Homo sapiens: one gene and its partners. The protein of the gene in region 2 interacts with the protein of the main gene of each other region in a pairwise test. Each region holds a gene or a part of one and is shown on either strand. Other genes may lie near its edges.

Evidence for each region.
Region 1: the proteins of ALAS1 (region 2) and CERK interact in binary tests that used the Homo sapiens proteins (3 or more experiments, as listed by UniProt).
Region 3: the proteins of ALAS1 (region 2) and CAP2 interact in binary tests that used the Homo sapiens proteins (3 or more experiments, as listed by UniProt).

Annotation. Positions count from the first base shown.
Region 1 is NC_000022.11:46,696,743-46,700,395, forward strand, and holds part of CERK (ceramide kinase), read right to left. Parts: intron 2,724-3,653; coding exon 2,571-2,723; intron 1-2,570. UniProt on the Homo sapiens protein: Catalyzes specifically the phosphorylation of ceramide to form ceramide 1-phosphate.
Region 2 is NC_000003.12:52,204,507-52,208,159, forward strand, and holds part of ALAS1 (5-aminolevulinate synthase, non-specific, mitochondrial isoform 1 precursor), read left to right. Parts: intron 1-186; coding exon 187-409; intron 410-1,332; coding exon 1,333-1,517; intron 1,518-2,065; coding exon 2,066-2,245; intron 2,246-3,576; coding exon 3,577-3,653.
Region 3 is NC_000006.12:17,400,082-17,403,734, forward strand, and holds part of CAP2 (adenylyl cyclase-associated protein 2), read left to right. Parts: intron 1-3,653. UniProt on the Homo sapiens protein: Involved in the regulation of actin polymerization.

The DNA of each region.
Region 1 (3,653 bases), on a different chromosome or scaffold from region 2:
ATCCAGAGACCCGGAAGGCGTCTCCTGCCTCGGGGCTCTCATCCTGGTGGGAGGGACAGAGCTGCAGCCACTGCCTGTGGTGATGGGCTGAGGGCAAAGGGGGGGGCCAGGCATGCAGGGGGGCTGCCCACCACCCCACCCCAGCAGGCAGGGACAGGGAGGGGGCATCCCAGGGGCATTCTAGGCAGAGCCACACTGGGCTCAACAAAGGGCAGTCGGGAGAATGGCACAACCCAAACCGCTTCCTAAAATTCTCGCGGCTTCTCTAATTTTCTCGGTATTCCCTTTCTTAATAAGCCTTAGATAAATACCTCACTTTGCCATTTCTTAGGTTTTAATTTTCAAGCCACACTAGTTTTTAATTTCATTAAATCTTTTCAAGCTTCGTAAAGTTTGCCAAATCACTATTTCTTTCTCTCATAAGGGTTAAGATTTTAGTATCAGGAATTACTCGATTTAATTTGATACAGATTTATCTGAAAGCGAACTGTAAAGAGGCGGGAAAGTCGACCGGGCAGCGAGAATGGCACACCTCATGGTCTACATATTTTCTTCTTTCTTTCTTTTCTTTTTTTTTTGAGACAGGGTCTGGCTGTCGCTCCAGCTGCAGTGCAGTGGCCTGATCTCTGCTCACTGCAGCCTCCACCTTCTGTGCTCAAGGGCTCCTCCTGCCTCAGCATCCCGAGTAACTGGGGTGCCCGGCTAATTTTGTTTTTAATTTCTGTGGAGATGGGGTCTCCCTATGTCGCCCAGGCTGAAATTCTACTTTTCTTTTTTTTTGAGACAGAGGTCTCGCTCTGTTGCCCAGGCTGAAGTGCAGTGGCACGATCTCAGCTCACTGCAGCCTCTGCCTCCCGGGTTCAAGCAATTCTCCTGCCTCAGCCCCCCGAGGAGCTGTGACTATAGGTGTGCACCACCATGCCTGACTTATTTTGTATTTTTAGTAGAGACAGGGTTTCACCATGTTGGCGAGGCTGGTCTTGAACTCCTGACCTCAGGTGATCCACCTGCCTTGACCTCCCAAAGTGCTGGGATTACAGGCGTGAGCCACTGCCCCTGGCCAATTCTATGTATTTTTAAAGTTCTCCTTTTCCAGCGTTTAAAAGCTGGTGACGTCGCACCCACTGCCTGATGTGTGCAGACTGCAACTCTTGTGTCTGAACTGGCACCAGCCTTCATTTCTGGTTCATTCTAAACTCTGTGGTCGGGTAACAGGTCACCGCCGCCTGGCCCGAGGCCCCAGCAGCAGCCCCGGGAGCCTGGAGGACCTGCATGTTCCGAAGCCCACCCAGACCTGCCGTGTTGGATGCTCTGGGGGGTCCCCGCAGCCTGGGTTCTACCAAGCCCTCCAGAGGATGCAGGTGCCCACCACAGTCTGAGGACCACTGGGCTCAAGAAAGAGTGAGGCAGGATGCGGGCAACCTCTTTGTGCCTGTTTTCTCCGCTATAAAGTGGGGCAGGAGCACCTGCTGGGGTGAGAAGAGCACTGTGGAGAATGAAAGCTTTTGGGCTTCAGGGAGTGCGGCGTGGCATTCGCTCCCACTCCTCCTCCTCTGTGCCCACTGCGGCCGAGCCGCAGGAAGGCAGGATCTTGCCTGTTTTGTTCATGGACACGTCCCTGCCTCAAAAACCAGGCCCGGCATAGAGCAGGGGCTCAACAAATACGTGCTGAGTGTATCTCACTTGTATGGCTAGCTACGGTGTAACCCCAACAAAACCACGCAACCTTGTTGAATGAAGTAAAGGATACCTGTGCCTGAAGTTACAGAAGAGCTTCCACACAGATATCCCAGGCTGAATTTCTGCACAAAGTTCTTGCCACTTTGACTAATAAGCTCAGAGTGATTATAAAACTATTGTTTTACAGGCCAGGCATGGTTGCTCATGGTTGTAATCCCAGCACTTTGGGAGGCCGAGGTGGGCAGATTGCTTGAGCTCAGGAGTTTGAGACCAGCCTGGGCAACAGGGCAAAACCCTTTGTCTACAAAAATATACAAAAAAAAAAAAAATTAGCTGGTCACGGTGGCATGTGCCTGTAGTCCCAGCTACTCGGGAGGCTGAGGTGGGAGAATCACTTGAGCCTGGGAGGTCAAGGCTGCAGTGAACCGTGATCGTGCTACTGCACTCCAGCCTGAGTGACGGAGGAAGACTGTGTCTCAAAAAAATTTTTAAAAAATATATTTTAAAAACTATTTTTTTTCCAATTAATACTTCCACTTGAACAGTTTGGGGTGGCCTCTGTCACCTGCCTACCAGATGTGAGAGGCTGGTGGCCTGGCGTCTTGGGGTTCCAGCACCTGGGGTTCTGGAGTGAACTGCGTCCGTCATGGTGTCTACTCTGTGGCTTATGCTTGGGTCCAGGGGGCAGGATCTGGTTTAGAGCAATCCAGGTTCCAGTCCAGACCCTGCCACGTTCTGGCCCCGGCACATTTCATGAGGCCCTTAGCTTCCCGTCTGTGAGCAGGTGGGGGCCCACCTCTGACGGTGCTCAGTGGATTCAGTCAGGTAACATCTGTGAAGGCAGTCGGGGCACGACCAGCGGGGAGCGAGTCTGCATTATTCTGAGTTACCTGAAAAGTCGTATCTGGCAAGACCCAACCACCGTTTCTTCTCACTGTCCTTGATGATGTCCCCGTAGAAGCCGTAGCCCAGCAGGGACACGGAGTAGCGAAGGAGTGTGCTGTTGTGGTGGACTGAGGACACATCCATGGCCAGCGAGTCCCCTGTGGGAGAGAACGGCCGTGAGGGAAGGCAGCCCCCCTCCAGCCCCGCCCCATCCACTCCATCCCCTTCAATAGCACTTTGCAAACGTGGGAGTTACTTTTAAAAAGTGTGAAACAAACAGAACGCATTCAGTGCAAGGATTCTCTCTCTTGGGGTGTTGGATGCCATATTTTTTATTCAAATGACTGAACTCCACTCAAATTTCTAAAACAGGCTCGGGGAGCTATCCTGTGGGGACTGAACAAGAGTGTATCCGTGAGGCTCATGAAATATCTTTAACTGAAAGGACGGTGGTTTTAGAATGAAGAAAAAGTACATGGCATTTTAAAATACAAAATCAAGCCGAGTGCAGTGGTTCACGCCTGTAATCCCAGCACGTGGGGAGGCCGAGGCGGGCAGATCACCTGAGGTCAGGAATTTGAGACCAGGCTGGCCAGAATGGTGAAACCTTGTCTCTACTAAACATATAAAAATTAGCCAGGCATGGTGGCGTGTGCCTGAAATCCCAGCTAGTGGCGAGGCTCAGGCAGGAGAATCGCTTGAACCCGGGAGGCGGAGGTTGCAGTGAGCCGAGATCATACCACTGTACTCCAGCCTGGGCCACACACAGAGTGAGACTCTGTTTCAAAAAAAATAAAATAGGCCAGGTGCGGTGGCCCGCGCCTGTAAGTAACCCCAGCACTTTGGGAGGCTGAGGTGGGTGGATCACCTGAGGTCAGGAGTTCGAGACCAGCCTGGTCAACATGGTGAAACCCCGTCTCTACTAAAAATACAAAATGAGCTGGGCGTGGTGGCAGGTGCCTGTAATCCCAGCTACTTGGGAGGCTGAGGCAGGAGAATCGCTTGAACCCGGGAGGCGGAGGTTGCAGTGAGCCAAGATCGCGCCACTGTACTCTAGCCTGGGCAACAAGAGCGAAACTCTGTCTCAA
Region 2 (3,653 bases):
TACTTACCGTCTACACATGGCACTGAGCCAAACACGACATACAGTCTTATTTACTTACAAGATGAGGACATCAAATAACCTGCCCAGGATCTCCCTCAGTTGCCAAGCTGAGACTTGTTGTATTTCACCAAAATGCAGCTGTGTTTCACAACCACCATTCTGTACTGTCTTTTGTTCAATTTTTAGCTGTTTCCACTTTTCAGTATGATCGTTTCTTTGAGAAAAAAATTGATGAGAAAAAGAATGACCACACCTATCGAGTTTTTAAAACTGTGAACCGGCGAGCACACATCTTCCCCATGGCAGATGACTATTCAGACTCCCTCATCACCAAAAAGCAAGTGTCAGTCTGGTGCAGTAATGACTACCTAGGAATGAGTCGCCACCCACGGGTGTGTGGGGCAGTTATGTAAGTAGCCCTTGGCTTTCAAATATTACTGTTGTTATTTGGCAAGCCAATGATGATGTATAGGGGTTGGATCTTTTATGGAGGGAACATTCAGTAGCTGAAAGTGTGCCATAGCAAAATACTATTCTTAGCTTCTGAAAAATATCTACAGATTACTTTTAAAGGAACTCTAATATGCAGGTAGCTGCTGGAGCCCCTTAACTTGTGAGGGTTCAAGCTTATAGGCTCAATGACCACACACGTCAGTCCACTTTCTATCACTCTGCAAGTGAGTGTGCCTTTAACACCAGGCAGTCTTTCACAGAGACATCCTTGGTTGTGGCTGTGAGTGGAGAAATACGAATCTAGCAGCGCTAGAGAAAAAGCTACTCCAAAAGACATGTTAAAAAGGATGGTAGATCCCATCACTCGTCCTTCAGGAGGCTCACCATCCTAGGGATGCTGGAGAGAGTTGCTGGCCAGATTCTCCAAAGGCTTGCTAAAGAGGGTCCCGGTTTGAGGTTTAATGATAGTGATATATCCAAACATTACATGACTGGCTTGCAGAGGGTAACCACCATCCAGGATGTCCCTCTAGAGTTTGCTTTTTCTTAAGCTAACATGTTATTGGAAAGAATAATGTTTCTCAGAAAATAAACCTTAGTTTCTTAGAAAAGAAACTCAGCTAATACCAAGCACTTACTGACTGTTAAATGAACACTTGTTCTTGATGATTCCTGGAGGTATCATCACCCTAGCATTGACACCTTCTCCCACCTAGTCTGAAGATGAAATCAGTTGAAATTTCTGACCCCAGGTTTCACAGTGAGAGAGTTGCTACATCAACATGTTTCAGTCTCCTGGATCCTAGAAAGGGGAAAAAATTCACATGGTGTTGAGAACCATGAGCTTTATTTTCTGGTTTTGTTTGTATTTTTAAACAGGGACACTTTGAAACAACATGGTGCTGGGGCAGGTGGTACTAGAAATATTTCTGGAACTAGTAAATTCCATGTGGACTTAGAGCGGGAGCTGGCAGACCTCCATGGGAAAGATGCCGCACTCTTGTTTTCCTCGTGCTTTGTGGCCAATGACTCAACCCTCTTCACCCTGGCTAAGATGATGCCAGGTAAGGAAGCCTGGCATGAGTGCCTTCGAGTTTTTTGGGTTTCTTAGTAATAACAAGAATATTGGCAACAAAGAAGCCTTACCAGAACCTCTCAATTGAAAATCATAATCCTATCTGGGCATTTGTTCTGGGGTCAAGCATGAAATGCTGACTGTACATTATGGGTTCCAGGAGAACGTGATACCAGTGAAAATTCAAACTTGAAACGTCTCATCCTTGAGCTAATTGCCTCAAATATGTTTTGTATTCTAAGATGATCCTTTGGAGAAGTCTCTTAATCATTTAGTTAGCTCTTGATTGAGTTTGGAGTGAGGCAGTCAGATTTAAGAGCAGATTAATGGCCTGCCACAAGGTTATTCTACACCTTTGGGCCTTCTCACAAGGGAAGCACTAACTAGTTATTTTGCCAGGAAGAAACTGGCACACAGTGTCTTTTTCCTACTAGGCATTTTCAAAGCATCATTTCCAAGGAAAAGTCTGTTGTCTTTCTCTAGGAAATAATTTGTCTTCGATGCACATGGCAATAAATAGCATTTTTGTTGTCTTAGGCTGTGAGATTTACTCTGATTCTGGGAACCATGCCTCCATGATCCAAGGGATTCGAAACAGCCGAGTGCCAAAGTACATCTTCCGCCACAATGATGTCAGCCACCTCAGAGAACTGCTGCAAAGATCTGACCCCTCAGTCCCCAAGATTGTGGCATTTGAAACTGTCCATTCAATGGATGGTAAGTGTGGATAGAGGTTCCTCTGAAACCTAAGATGAAAAACTATGCCTGAACTCTTTAAAAGTATGGTGTTTTGTTGTGTTTTTTAATTTTTTTTTTTTGTGACCGATCCTCGCTCTGTTGCCCAGGCAGGAGTGCAGTGGTGCGATCTCGACTCACTGCAAGCTCCGCCTCCCGGGTTCACGTCATTCTCCTGCCTCAGCCTCCCGAGTAGCTGGGACTACAGACACCTGCCACCACGCCTGGCTAATTTTTTTTTTTTTTTTTTTTGAGACGGAGTCTCCCTCTGTCACCCAGGCTGGAGTGCAGTGGCGTGATCTCGGCTCACTGCAAGCTCCACTTCCTGGGTTCACGCCATTCTCCTGCCTCAGCCTCCTGAGTAGCTGGGACTACAGGCGCCTGCCACCACGCCCAGCTAATTTTTTGTATTTTTAGTAGAGACAGGGTTTCACCATGTTAGCTAGGATGGTCTCGATCTACTGACCTTGTGATCTGCCCGCCTCAGCCTCCCAAAGAGCTGGAATTACAGGTGTGAGCCACCGCACCTGGCCTAACTTTTTGTATTTTTAGTAGACGGGGTTTCACTGTGTTAGTCAGGATGGTCTCAATCTCCTGACCTTGTGATCCGCCCACCTTGGCGTCCCAAAGTGCTGGGATTACAGGCGTGAGCCACCGCGCCTGGCCTGTTGTGTTTTTTAATTTTCTTTTCCTTTCTGCCAGGATTTTTTTTTTTCTTCTTCCAACTTTTAGGTTCAGTGGGTACATGTGCGGGTTTATTATATGGGTAAATTATGTGTCACAGGGTGTTGGTGTACCAATTATTTCATCACCTAGGTAGTAAGCATAGTACCCAATGGTAGTTTTTGATCTCACCCTCCTCCCACCCTCCACCCTCAAGTCGGTCCCTGGTGTCTGTTGTTCCCTTCTTTGTGTCCATGTGTTCTCAGTGTTTAGCTCCCACTTATAAGTGAGAGCGATATTTGGTTTTTCCGTTCCTGTATTAATTCACTTAGGATGGCCTCTAGCTCCATCCGTATTGCTGTAAAGGACATGGTCTCATTCTTTTTTTATTGCTGTGTAGTATTGCATTCTGCCAAGATTTGTAATTGGTGGACTTTTTTCTAATAGATTTGGGTGAAAGTGGATTTTCTATTCTGGCTTTTACTAGGCTCTGGGACCCCAGGTAACCTAGAAATTAGAGGAAGTTCATTTTCTTTCCAATATTGAAAATGATACCTTAGAATAGAAGTTTACGTTGTTCTGACTCTAACCAAAACAGAAATTTCTGAAGCGGCAAAAGCTCTTCAGAGCAGTCTCTGGTCTTTCCTCAGGGGCGGTGTGCCCACTGGAAGAGCTGTGTGATGTGGCCCATGAGTTTGGAGCAATCACCTTCGTGGATGAGGTCCAC
Region 3 (3,653 bases), on a different chromosome or scaffold from region 2:
TGGGCATGGTGGCACGTGCCTGTAGTCCCAGCTACTTGGGAGGCTGAGGCAGGAGAATCGCTTGAACCCGGGAGGCGGAGGTTGCAGTGAGCCAAGATCATGCCACTGCATTCCAGTGTGGGCAACAGAATGAGACTCCATCTCAAAACACACACACACATACACACACAAAACAGACCTGTAGTACATAGACAGCTTTGTTGTCCTATTATTATGCACAGTTTAATGAGAAAATAACCTCTGTTACTTTGCATCATTCCATTTGGAGATCCAGAGAAATTCTGGGATCCATTGGTTGACTTACTCCCCCTATGTTGAGTGACTGCTATATCCCTAGCATCTGGGGATGCAAAAATGAAGATCAGTGAAGGAAGATAGAATGAATAGAAGATGACACTTAAGCTGTAAACATAAGTCACAAAGGATCTATTCGGATGATTGTCATCATTTCCTACTTTGTTTCTATTTAGTTTTAGTCAGAGAAGAATCACTGGATTCTTGGCCGGGCACAGTGGCTCATGCCTCTAATCCCAGCACTTTGGGAGGCTGAGGCGGGCAGATCACAAGGTCAGGAGATCAAGACCATCCTAGCTAACATGGTGAAACCCCGTCTGTACTAAAAATACAAAAAAAATTAGCCAGGCGTGGTGGCAGGTGCCTGTAGTCCCAGCTACTCGGGAGGCTGAGGCAGGAGAATGGCGTGAACCCAGGAGGCAGAGCTTGCAGTGAGCCGAGATCGCGCCATTGCATTCCAGCCTGGGCAACAGAGTGAGACTCCGTCTCAAAAAAAAAAAAAAAAGAATCACTGGATTCTTATGAAAATGAATTATTTTATCCTAAGGCAACAAGAACAGTTAAATTGGACCACACTAAGAAAATGAGATGATCAGATTTTTCAGAACCAGGTAAAATAGGCTTCCAAGTGTTGCATGTATAGTTCAGTCTGGTTATAGTGTGATATACTGGAGTTGGAGGCATCCATTTGTAATCTTAGCTTCGAAGCTGCTGTGGTCTGAATGTTTATGTCCTCCCAAAATTCTTATGTTGAAATCCTCACTGCCATTGTGATGGTATTAGGAGTGGAAGGCCTTGGGAGGTGAATAGGTCATGGGGTAGAGCACTCATGAATGGATTAGTGCCCTTATGAAAGAGAACCAAGGGAGACCCTTTGCTCCTTTCGCCAAGTAAGGACACAGCAAGAAAGTGCCATCTATGAGCCAGAAAGTGGGCCTTGATCTGCATTGATCTTGGACTTCCCAACCTCCAGAACTGTGAGAAATAAATTTCTATTGTTTATAAGCTATCCAGTCTGTGGTGTTTTGTTACAGCAGCCTGAAAGAAACTAACATAGTAACCTGTGTATTACCCAAACTGTGCAAGTGATAGATCAATATGATATAAGTGTGATCTTTCCATCGAATGTATACTGTCCTGGTATTGCTACTCACCCCTCTCCAGTGGCAGGAAAACCAAATGTCTGGCCTAATGAGTTAGGTTGATTGATGGACAGTTTCAACTGATTGGTTACTTGACATGAGGTAGGCTAAATGCAGATAGTCTATCTCTCGGCAGTCATGCTAGAAGCTGTGGCTAGAGATTTTCAGGGTACAATGCAGATCCACAATTATTTAGGCAATTTTTTTTAAGTTTACATTTTTATTTCTCCTCCATTTGAATTTCTTCTCTGTTTCTTAGTACTCCTCTCTGTGTTCAAAGTTCTCACTGTAGACAACCCTTCACTCCCCCTCCTTCCATCTTGCTTCAGAACAGCCTCTCTCTTCCTTAGGAATTCACTCCCCTCAATGCCTCTTTCTGAATGGAAGGTGGACAATTATCAATTGAAAGTCTTCAGTAATTGAAAATTTTAAAAAGAGACTTGTTAATAGTGTGAGTCTCTATATAATATATAATTGGGGATGGAACTCATTTTTATGCTTCTTATTTTGGTTCAGCAATCTTTAAACTGTGTGCATTTACTATATGCAAAGGTTTGCCAAAGGTACATGTGCACAGGTGCTTTGAGAATATAAAGGTCCAAATCCTCCTCTTCCATATGTGCTTTTTTCCTAAGACTAATCTTGATGAGAATGGACCTGTAATGGAGACGCAAGTTCTCTTTCCCATCTGCTTTTCCATAATCACCTTCCTCTTGCTTTCCTTGTGAAAAGCGTATGTCTACCCCATTTTCCTAATCCATTTTACTAAATGGTTTATGTCTAACCCATTTTAGTAAATTGCTTTGCCCAAGGATGTAAAACTCTAGGGGATGGGGAGGACAAAAAAGGGGGAAATTTCTGAGTATAAATTTCGTTTCAGGGGTGAGAAAGCAAATGACTGTAATGCCTGAGCAGAGACCCTTTTGCAAATCATGTGTTTTCTAAATCTATCTTAAAAAACAAAAAGTGAAGGCCAGTCTAATCAAATAGTAAACCGATATTAAAGGATAAACTCTAAAAAAGAATGAAATTTTGACTCTCATACAAATAAAAAATAGACATTTTCAAACTTATTTAAAAAATGAGAGAGCCAGAAAGGTTTTGCAGTCAGTTCAAAGGAGATCATTTATAAGAATGCTGGAATGAATTTGCTTAATACATGTAAAACTGGCTTCTTCCACAATGGGAGAGGGAAGGTGATTGGACTTCTACAGCATAAAGTTTATTTGCATGTCTGTATGACTTGCTTTACTATCAGTTTTCTGCAACTTAACTTATATCTCTACAGGGTTGTAAAATAGCTTAGTCAAACACAATGAATGACTGAGATGACCCAGATGAATAAGTATTAGGGTACTCATGAAATTTGTCTTCTCAATTTTTCCTTACATTGACAATTAAAATAAGTTTTGATATTTCACTACCATGTGATGTTGGAGTTCAAAAAATTAAGTGACATTTCTATAACAAAATTCCTCCCATTTCCATCTCCTCATTATGTTTCCCAGCATTACATTGATAAAAACAAAAAATAAGAATTAAATTGATGCTCAACATTGACCCATTTTATTTATTTTTATTTTATTATTATTATTTTTTATTGAGATGGAGTCTTGCTCTGTCACCCAGGCTGGAGTGCAGTGGCACGATCTTGGCTCACTGCAACCTCTGCCTCCTGGGTTTAAGTGATTCTCATGCATCAGCCTCCTGGCTAGCTGGGACTACAGGCGCGAGCCACCATGCCCGGCTAATTTTTTGTACTTTTAGTAGAGATGGGGTTTTACCATGTTGGCCAGGCTGGTCTCAAACTCCTGACCTCAGGTGATCCGCCTGCCTTGGCCTCCCAAAGTGCGGGGATTACTGGCGTGAGCCACAGCGCCCAGCCACCTGGACTCATTTTAATAAGTATACACATCCACATATCCATAAAGTTATGGAAAGTAAAAGTGTTCAAAAGAGAGAGATTTCCAATAAAGTTGCTTTTTATTTACTTTTAGTAATTATTTGTCAAAATTTGTAATATTTGTGTTGTTTTCTAAGTCACATCCTACTAATAGTAACAATGGTATCAGAATAGCTTTTTTTAAAAAATGTTTTGACCATTGAATTAGAATTTAAATTTAAATAATGTTTTTGATGCAGAAAAGTATGGTAGGCTAATGAGTAAAATAGGCTAAAGCATAAAATATGTAAAATTAAGATAAACTTCTGTAGGGC